Linked DNA regions of Homo sapiens: region 2 is linked to region 1. Evidence: fine-mapped expression QTL. A gene starts in region 1. The other region holds a variant in brackets. All regions are shown on one strand. Distances are between the middles of the regions. Region 1 holds the start of GRIA4 (glutamate ionotropic receptor AMPA type subunit 4). Region 2 has its middle 83 kb from the start of GRIA4.

The links. PIP is the estimated chance that this variant, and not a neighbour inherited with it, causes the effect. A credible set is the group of variants that fine-mapping cannot tell apart.
Region 2: its variant is the best candidate, but not a certain one, in a credible set for the expression of GRIA4 in pancreas (GTEx, PIP 0.58).

Annotation. Positions count from the first base shown.
Region 1 is chr11:105,607,213-105,612,566 of GRCh38, forward strand. It overlaps GRIA4 (glutamate ionotropic receptor AMPA type subunit 4), which reads left to right and starts at 2,861. Exons shown (of 17, transcript NM_000829.4): 1 at 2,861-3,216; 2 at 3,696-3,873; 3 at 5,064-5,222. The coding sequence starts at 3,786. RefSeq lists a silencer at 3,837-4,037.
Region 2 is chr11:105,524,127-105,529,518 of GRCh38, forward strand. It overlaps a transcript of LOC105369468 not described here. Among named protein-coding and RNA genes, the nearest start is that of GRIA4, 83 kb to the right of the region's middle. The variant G/A (reference allele first, on the strand shown) is at 3,044.

The DNA of each region.
Region 1 (5,354 bases):
GACAATGCTTCTGAGTGAGATGGTGCCGAGCCATCTCTTGCTTTGCTTTCCAGCCGCACTTCCACTACTTCCCCTCATATAACCTGAAGTCTAGTTTTACCAAGCTTTTAGCAGTGTCTAGAAAGACATAATTTTTCTCCACTTGATAATCCCTACAAACACATAGCAACTCAGTTCAATTTTATTTTTCTCTCTGTGAGTTCTCCCTGAATTCCCTCAAAGTCAGAGTTAGACACTCTATTTTGCTCACATGGCACTCTGCACCTCACTCTATAAGAGCCTTTATCACATTTTGGGGGGCAACTCATTATTGACAAGAGTTGCCAGTTATGTGCCAGAACTGTGTTGAAAGTTTACTTATATCCTGTCAGAAAAGAAATGTTAGGTAATATATCCAAGTCAATACAGCTAAGAAATTGAGGGCCTGTAATCTGAAACCAGTTACTAATTATTAGTCTGAAAGCCTGAGGTCTTTCAGGTAGAACACACTACCTTTCTGAATGCTAGGATTCTTGTAGTTTACTTTTCAGCTCCCAGACCCCTCGTCACTCCTTAAACTCATTAACACAGCAGGTTTTAATAAAGACAGCCCAGTCTCTGAAATCAGACAACTTGAGTCCCATCCTTAGTTATGGTTTCATCACTTACCAAGAATATAATCTTGAGAAAGAATCTAAATCTTTAGTTGGGTTACCTAACAAATGCAAGGATACCTAAAATTTTCTGTAGATCAGGTAATATATGTATGGCTTCAGCACAATACCTTGCACATTAGTGAGCATTCATAAACATTAAGAGTCTTCTAAGAATATCAGGGATTTTGTTTTGTTCAACTTTATATCTCAAACACTTGGAGAATAAATACACATCATAGGTGCTTAATATATAACTATTTGACATATATGTACATCTATATACATGTATATACGTATATAATATATGTATATATGATATTTCTATGTATCATACAGAGAAAATATATTTGATACATACATTTATAAATATATGTGTATATAATACAGATAAAGAGAGTTTAGGTTTAGAAAGTAAAATAGAGGTTTTAACTACTTGGGAAAATAGAAATTAAAAACAACTGGATTACTATTTTGGAAAAATATAGTTGTGTCATCTGTGGTTATATTAGTCCAGGTGTTATCATGACAGTTAAGTGGGGAAAAAAAACTTGTCCTGCATCTATATCAATGATGCTATTACATCATATGAAAACTGAAATCTTTCAATTTTGAGAAGAATTAAAGTTAATAATTGCCTCTGGATCAGGAAGAGCTTCACTAGTTACCCAAGCAAGTGATGAGTTTAACAGTTTGGTGGATTTTGAAATTTTAATTTAACTTGAATTTTATGTGTCATACTCTATTATCCTTTTTCAAGAGAAAACAGAATGCTATTATTCACAGCCTTGTTTTTTAACACAGAAAAATAAAAAAAGGAAAAATGCTTCAAATTTCACTTGACTTGCAAGACTAAAACTTCACAAACTAAAATGACAAATGTATGATTTGTAAAATACAGTTACAATTAGGTTTTTTTTTTCATAACAATCTGTGGTGAAATGTAACGGGAAAGCAGACACTTATTTTAAAGATGCAATTTTAAAAATAAAATTCAAAACTTAGGAAATAGAAAAGCACTCAAGTTTTAGCAGGGATTTTAAAATGTCATCTACAAACTACAAATACAGGTAATCAGTGACACCAAATAAAGTATTTTGAAAGAGTTAAGGTAATGTATATTTCAAAAAGCCGTTACCAGGCTTTCTGTAAGTCCCTTGCAAGAATTCCACTTTAAGCATTGTAGTCTCAAATATTATATCAGGCAAACCTAGGCATTTGCTATATTCTTTTTAAAAATTTAATGGCAGACATCACCCTAGGTTCCCTAACGTTTAAGGAGAACCTCTCCTTCTAATGATTCTCTCACACAGCTTATTGGAACAGGAGATTGTATTTACTAACTAGATCAGGAAATCTCAAACCATACAGAGGAAATCAGAAACCGGTCACTCACGGCTACCACAGTGACTGCTTCTGAGTGTGGTTCAAGCTCAGTCCAGGACAGGCAGATGAAAGGACAATCTTAAAGGTGACTCTGGAGAGCAAGTGAGACTGTAACCCCAAAACTTTCTAGGATAATTCATTTTCACTTCTACCCAGTCAAAACAACTATTGACATCATCACTGAAGTGCTTAAGTCTACCTGGAGGTGGCGTGGAGCAGAGTGAGCATTCCAGAGTCCCAGACAAGAGGAGATGTGCACGAAACACTATCTTCCTGTCAGACACCTGTGCCCACTGCCCCAAGCACTGCCCCTCTGGTCCTTCATCAGCCTTTGCGCTGTGTCCCTCCTGCTCCTGCAATGGGCCACAGCACAGAAGGAAAGAGTCCTCCGGAATGGGTGACTGTATAGAAAGCAATCGAATCTTTAATCACTTTTCCTACTTTACACTTCACGCAGTTCTTATTCCTATCCCTGCTTCATGCCTTTCCAAGAGAATGTTAGAGGCCTCTTTCAATTTTCATTTCTCAGTCTTTTCCCCATCCCGTTCAGTACCCTAAACTTCGTCAGTTATTTAAAATAACCTTTTACCCCCTCCTCCCCTTCCCAGGATGTTTCAACTTCTCTGGCTCTCTTCCCCATCCTTACCTCCTCCAATTCTTTCATCCTGGTCCTGGCCTCTTAAACCCGCCAGGGGCTGCCCTTTGCCTGTCTTTTCTCCTCCCATCCCTCTCTGAACCCTTTCACCTCATCCATTCCCTTGTCAGGCTCTCCAGATTCCCGGGCTGTTTGCTGGTGAGAAATCTTTGCTGCAGCGAGGACCGGAGTCCCCCGCGCGCAGCCCAGTGGCAGAAGAGGGCTAGGCTGAGAGGGAAGCCAGGACTGTAGGAGAGGGAGGCAGCCCGTCCTCCTCACGAACCTGCAAGGATGCGGCAGGGGCCTGGGGGCATGGGGAGGTACTAACCCCCCGGAGCCCCCGATTGGGGCTTGCAGACCTGGCCCGTGGGCGGATTTTCTGCCTAGCGCAGCCGAGAAGCAGAGGTGCCAGGAAAACCAAGAGAGGGGCGCTGGGGGTGCCCATCCCCAGAGTCGGTCCCTCTGCGAACCGAGGAAGAAAAGAGGAGGGAGTCAGCGAGTGGTCAGAAGGGAAAACCTGACACCAGACTGGCTCCGGAGCGTCCGGGAGACTGGGGCGCTCCGGTGAGCACCCAGGGGGTGAAGCCAGCCGAGCGGTGGGCGAGGGGCGTGCGGAGGGAGTGCGCGCTCGAGGAGGGGACGCCAGGAGGGCAGCGATGCTCCGGGCTGGTGCAGGCTTGCTGGGGGATGTCGGCTGATGCGAGCTGGAGAGCGCGTGTGGCGGCCGCGGCGCCAGTGTTTGTGTGTATGTGAGAAAGCAAGGGGCGAGCGCGAGTGCGAGTGAGGCAAAGATAGAGCGCATGTCTCATCCCTGCGAGCAGCCACTAGACGCTCCACCACCATCTTTTGCATGTGCAACATTTGCAGCCGGACAGAAAACCTCTCCCAGGGCTATGGAGACTGCGGGAAAAATCTGGCGGCTCGCGATGGATTGCTAAGGAGAACTAGTCATAATCTTAAACCACCGAAACCTCTTTCCTTTTTTTTCTTTCTTTTCTTTCTTTTCTTTTTTTTTTTTTTTTTTTGGTTGATTTTAATTTTAGCGCCATCGTCTTCAATGCTTCTCTGAACAGCCTTTAGGAAGAGTGCGAGAGAAAGAGAGAGAGCGCGCGCCAGGGAGAGGAGAAAAGAAGATGAGGATTATTTCCAGACAGATTGTCTTGTTATTTTCTGGATTTTGGGGACTCGCCATGGGAGCCTTTCCGAGCAGCGTGCAAATAGGTAAGGTGTGCTCCGATGGGGTGTGCATGTGGCTGGTTGTAGCAGATATCCGAAAGTGAGTTAAATGAGTTGCTGATAAGCAATTCAGGGAAACCTTCAGCAGTTCCCTTCCCCTCTGTTTCCCTCCTCTTCCTTTCTCTCCTTTGCAAAAAGACTTCCTCTTTAGTGCAGGTTCCGTTGGAATACACCCAGGGCAGCCCACCCATGCGTTCTCAGCCCATAGCCCTATTTCCACCTTTACCTATAGTCGCTTAAGTAGGATTGAAATAAGTTGGGGGAAAGTCTTCGGGGAATTTGGTTGTATTTTATATGATATTTATTTCCATCCCTTTCTCTAAAGCATAAAGTGATGTCGAGTTTGTTTAAAAAAGAAAAAAAAAATCCACTTCTTCCCATTCTGGACGCCGCAGCTTTCTTGCTATTACAGAAAGACACTGTTTGAGGAAAAAGACATTTCCACCCGCACGCCCTGCCGTTTCTTGCTACCAGTTAGCAGATTCCAAAGTTAGATCCCTTTCCTGGAAGCTTCTCCCCTTTTATTTTGTTTTCTTCTTGAAGCTTTTGCCCTTATTTCTCTACCTCGACTCTGTTTCCAGGGACACCCTCCATCCTTGGCTTTTCTTGCTATTCTCCTCTACTGTCTTTTAATGGGACGCAGCTATTGAATTTCTTCCAGCTAAGCCCAGCCTCAACACTGCATCATTTCTCGTGGACTGTGCATAAAACGGAGTTAATTAGGCTGAGTCCACGAGCTGGAGGAAAATAAAGTTCATTTCTTCTTTCTGATTTCCCTCTTCCCTGTGTGGCACTATATCCCTTCATTTCCGTATTTTAATGTAAATCTCTTTTCCGCTCATCTGCATGCATCTTAGAGAGAGCTGCCCTGAGGTGGCTGATGTAGCAGTGTGCTGGGAATCAGGGGGAGGGCAAGGGAGAGAAAGGAACATTCACTAAATGGTCTCAGAGGTCATTGTGAGCAAGACACATTAGGACAAGAAAAAGCTGAGCTGCTCTAAAGACTAAATACTAAGCATGCACCTTAGGGACAAAGGGCAGTCTCCCTAGATGTGGCAGGTATAGCTCTTTAATTGTATGTGCTTGTGAATGGCAGTAGATTTGACTGTGCTTGGGGTGGGTATAATGTTGACAAGAGGAAACAGTGAATGTGCTTTTCCTGCTGTTTTTAATAGGTGGTCTCTTCATCCGAAACACAGATCAGGAATACACTGCTTTTCGATTAGCAATTTTTCTTCATAACACCAGCCCCAATGCGTCGGAAGCTCCTTTTAATTTGGTACCTCATGTGGACAACATTGAGACAGCCAACAGTTTTGCTGTAACAAACGCCTGTAAGTAAAACATAAGCTATGAAAAATTAGAAGAGAACTGAAACCAAGCAATGGAGTCCTCTTCCTCTTTGTTATTTAATTTTTTTAGAAAGAATTTCAAGATTCCCACAGTTGCCTGGTTTCAGGACAAAT
Region 2 (5,392 bases), 83 kb before region 1:
CTGGATAATTATAAGACACATCTCAGGAAAGTGCCTAAAAGGTAGAGAAAAGAGATTAAAAGATCCATCAGATGAAAGAACGAGAGGTTCTAACATGTGTCTAATGAGAGTTTCAGTGAGATAAAGAGTACAGGGAAAGAAATACTTGGAAAGACATTGGTGGTCGTCAGATTCTATACCTGGAATGGCTTCTGATTACAGCAATATGGATTAGCATAACTTGGATTAATGAGTACCACTGAAGAAAGCTAACACAGCAGGACAAAACACATTAAAAAATTATCTCAAAGGCAGAGTACTAGTAAAATAGTAAATTAGGTCAAGGGAGAAGTTCTGAAATTCTGAGAATAAACCCTGCATTTAGAAATTCTTTCCCTGGGGGTATTTGGCACAGACTAAGCAGAACTTTTGACATGCTCTCAGGACTTGGGAACAATGGCTGCAGTCTAGATACTGGCAGGGACAGAGCACAAACCACTTCTCTTATGAAGGACAGCATGCTGGAGACAGCGGACGCTAAATATAAGCCAGATATTTCCCAGCTATGGGAAAATAAGTTTCTGACTGTCCCAGAAATTCTCACTCTGATTTTAGCTTAAGGTGGTTCTAGATTGCCAGTACCATAAAGTGACAATATAAGAGAAATAAAATCCTTTCTGGAAAAAGGAAAGCTTTATCCTAGTATGCAAACTGTTACTACAAACACTTTTTCAAATATAATTTCCAATCCAGTTTTAAAGATAAAGATTGAAGGAGATAAGGCAATTGGCATAGAAACCAGCAGAAATGATACAGATAAAGAAGAGACCTTCTCCATATTGTTCAGGCTGGTCGTAAACTCCTGGGCTCAAGTGATCCTCCTGCCTTGGCATCCTAAAGTGTTGGGATTACAGGTATGAGCGACCATGCACGGGGTACCTGTATTGTTTCATTTTTAAAAAATGATGTATCTGAAGTAAATGTAACAGATCAGCTTGTGAATACATGGATATTTTATGATACTACTCTCTATACATTTCTATACTTTAGCATTTTATAATTTTTTAAAGAAGAATTTAATGTTTCAGAAAAAAAGTATAAATATATTCAAAAGATGGAAAAAGTCTTTTCCGTCTTATGTTTATCTGTATCTAAGGTGATATTACATGCAGAAATTTTTACTTTGGATAATTTGTTAGTATTTCAGTTTCATTGATTATCTTTTTGAAACAGCTAAAAGATAATTATATCATCAAAATAACGGAAAACATAGAAACAGCTTCTCTATAGCACTGTTTTACTTCCATAAATATGGTTGAATAATTCTTGATTCAAATTTCTTTTTATAAAATTACATTAAATGTACTATGGCATCTCTATAAGTTTTATACAATGAAAAAATATTGCATGCTTTGTATTCCTTCATTACAAAAATTGAACTGCAATTTAAATATGAATTTCAATTTAGAGCATTAGTAATTAACTGATTTTATTCTGTTTTGTAATTCTTTCATTCATTAATCACTGTGAGAGCTGAAGAACATTACAACCCTGTAGGAAATAAAAAGACAAGGGTGTCACTTAAGGTTAGTCATAGAGCATGGCTTGCATTTTAATCTAGCATTGGTTTTATGGAGATTTAAAACTTTTCAATCAAAAATACTTCTAAATGTCACCAGTTTTAGGGGAAGCATTTAGTCATTTCATGAATTAATTTTCTGGGCTTTACTGCTATGCTTTATTTACCACAATCTAAAATCAATACTATGGACACAGGGTATGGTTTTGTGTCAGACATGCACAGTCCTGAGGGCCCTGGTTTAAAAAGGATGATGTAGGTATCATTTTCTTTCTTCTAGCATTTCCCTAACAGATATGCAACACTTAACGGTCAAATGCTTATGGCATGTCTTGCTTCAAGTTGGAGAAATCCTATTTTTTCCCATCCTGTGCAATGTACTCATATGTAGTCACAAGACTGTTGGTGACTAAGACACCCAAAACTAGCAGCTATATTTGCTTCTTAGCACTGTAACCGTCCCAGCCCTGGTATTTGATTTAAGCCATTATACAGATTACAATTTGGGAAAGAAGCAATAAAATGATATAAATTCTAATAAATGTTAAAATTTCAATTTTTAAATATAATTAAAATTATGGAAATGAAATCTTTCATGAATGAGATCATCCACAATCTCTACATCTTTTATCCATAAATTCAAGTGAGAGGACAAGAACAGGAATAAGCACATTTGGAGGGCTTATTTTGTCGTGTGTGGACAATTCAATGGTCAGCTTCTGTGTTCACTTTCCTCTGCCTGTGGTTAAATTGTGTTACACAGCCTGAGGTGTTGGAGAAGGGGGTGTTATACCTTCAGGTCATTTACACTTACAGGTATCTGTGGAAATGTTTGTCCTCCCGTCTGGGCTTAGACATTCACAGATTGTAGCTGCAATGTCCCTTAATTCCATAAGTGTCCTTAAGACTTGGGAGAACCTTCATATATTTTTCCCTCACCCTAGAGTTTTGAGACCAATTCTGGTGCTTATTCTCTTTCTCTGGACAATGAACATATCTGTGATACCATTTGCTGTCCTCATCTGCTAGATACCCCATACAGACAGTCCCTATATCCAGAAAATAGACCAAAAACTCCCATATATTAATATAATCTATATAATTGTATATAATATAAAATAGACTAAACCTCCATAAGTTATTAATATAATATATAATTATATATAAATATTAATATAATATATAATTATACATATAATCATTAATATAATTTATAGGAGTTTTTGGTCTATTTTCTGGAAATAGGGACTGTCTATATGGGGCAATCTAGCAGGAAAAAATGTAAATCAGGAAAAAATTGAATAAATGTCTTGAAAATGTACTTCAAAAGAGAATATTCAAATGAAGCATGTGAAGATATGTTCAATATTTAGTTATCAGAAAAATGCAAGTTAAAATCACAATGAGACACCATTACATATTTAGTGCCATTTCTTTAAAAAATGAAAAAGTTATTACATATGTAAAGCATCTAGCCTTTTTTTT[G/A]TTGTTGTTGCTGTTAAACATTAGCCCTTTTTTTTTTTTTACTTTTATCTTGAGCTTCAGGGCACATGTGCAGATTTGTTATATGGGTAAATTGCATGTTGTGGGGATGTGGTGTACAGATTATTTTGTAACCCCGGCAATAAACATAGTACCCAACAGGTAGTAATAAGCATATTACCCAATAGGTATTAATAAGCATATTACCCAATAGGTAGTTTTTGGATCCTCACCTTCCTCCCAATTTCCCCCTCTTGTGGGCCCTGGTGTCTATATTCTCTTCTTTTTGTCCACATGTACTAGATAATTAGCTTCCACTTATAAGTGAGAACATGCAGTATTTGGTTTTCTGTTCCTGTGTTAGTTCACTTAGGATAATGGCCTCCAATTCTCTCCATGTTGCTGCAAAGGATGTGATCTCATTATTTTTTATGGCTGTGTAGTATTCAATGGTGCATATGTTTCTTTATGCAGTCTAGCACTGATGGGCAGTTAGGTAGATTCCATGTCTTCACTATTGTGAACAGTGCTGCAATGAACATATGTGTGCAAGTGTCTTTATGGTAGAATGACTTATATTCCACTGGATATATATCCAGTAATGAGATTGCTACATTGAATGGTAATTGTATCTTAAGTTCTTTCAGAAATCTCCAAACTGCTTTCCACAATGGCTGAACTAATTTATATTCCCACCAGTAGTGTTATGTTTTCTTTTCTCTGCAGCCTCACCAGCATCTGTTATTTTTTTACTTTTTAATAATAGCCATTCCGACTGCTGTGAGATGGTATCTCATGGATTTTATTTGCATTTATTTCTCTAATGATTAGTGATGTTGACCTTTTTTTCCTATGATTGTTAGCCACCTAAATGTCTTTTTTTGAACAGTGTCTGTTCATGTCCTTTACCCACTTTGTAAGGGGATTGGTTGTTTTTTGCTTATAAATTTGTTTAAGTTGCTTAAAGGTGCTGAACATTAGACCTCTGTAGGATACATAGTTTGTAAGTATTTTCTCCCATTACGTAGGTTGTCTGTTTACTTGGTCGATATTTTGCTGAACAGAAGCTCTTTAGTTTAATTAGGACCCATTTGTCAATTTTTCGTTGTAATTGCTTTTGACATCTTCATCATAAAATCTTTGACCAGTCATATGTCCAAAATGGTATTTCCTAGGTTATCTTCAGGGTTTTTATAGTTTTAGATTTTACATTTCAGTCTTTAATCCACCTTGTGTTGATTTTTGTATACTGTGTAAGGAAGGGGCCAAGTTTCAATCTTCTGCAAATGACTAGCCAGTTATCCCAGCACTATTTATTGAACAGGGAGTTCTTTCCCCATTGCTTGTTTTTGTAAACTTTGTCGAAGATCAGATGGTTGAAGGTATGTGGCATTATTTCTGGGCTCTCTATTCTGCTCCACTGGTCTATGTGTCTGTTTCTGTACTAGTACCATACTGTTTTGGTTACTGTAGTCTTGTAGTGTAGTCTGAAGCCAGGTGATGCCTATAGCTTTGTTCTTTTTGCTTAGGATTGCATTGGTTATTTGAGCTTTTATCTTATTTTTGTTTCATATAAACTTTAGAATAGTTTTTTTTCAAATTATAAAGAGAATGTCATTGTAGTTTGATAGGAATAGCATTGACTCTGTAAACTGCTTTGGGCAGTATGGCCATTTTAATGATATTGAATCTTCCTCTCCACGAGCATGGAATGTTTTTCCATTTGTTTGCATCATCTCTGGTTTCTCTGAACAGTGTTGTTTTTAATTCTTATTGTAGAAATCTTTCACTTCCTTGATTATCTGTATTTCTAGGTATTTTATTATTTTTGTGGCAATTATGAATGGGATCACATTCCTGATTTGGCTCTCAGCTTGGATGTTGTTGGTGTATAGGAATGCTATGGATTTTTGTTCATTGATTTTGTATCCTGTAACTTTGCTGAAGTTGTTTATCAGATCAAGGAACTTTTGAGCAGAGAATATGGTGTTTTCTACATATAGAATCATACGGTCTACAAACATAGATAGTTTGACTTTCTGTCTTCCTATTTGACTGCCTTTTATTTCTTTCTCTTGCCTGATCACTCTAGCTAGGACTTCCAGTACTATGTTGATCAAGAATGATGAGAGAGGGCATTCCTGTATTATTCCAGTTTTCAAGGTTAATGCTTTTGCTCATTCAGTATGATGTTGGCTGTGGGTTCCTCATAGATGGCTCTTACTATTTTAAAGTGTGTTCCTTCAATGCCTAGTGCGTTGAGGGTTTTTAATATGAAGACGTGTTTAACTTTATCAAAAGATTTTTCTGCATCCATTGAAATAATCATGTGGTTTTGTTTTTAGTTCCCCT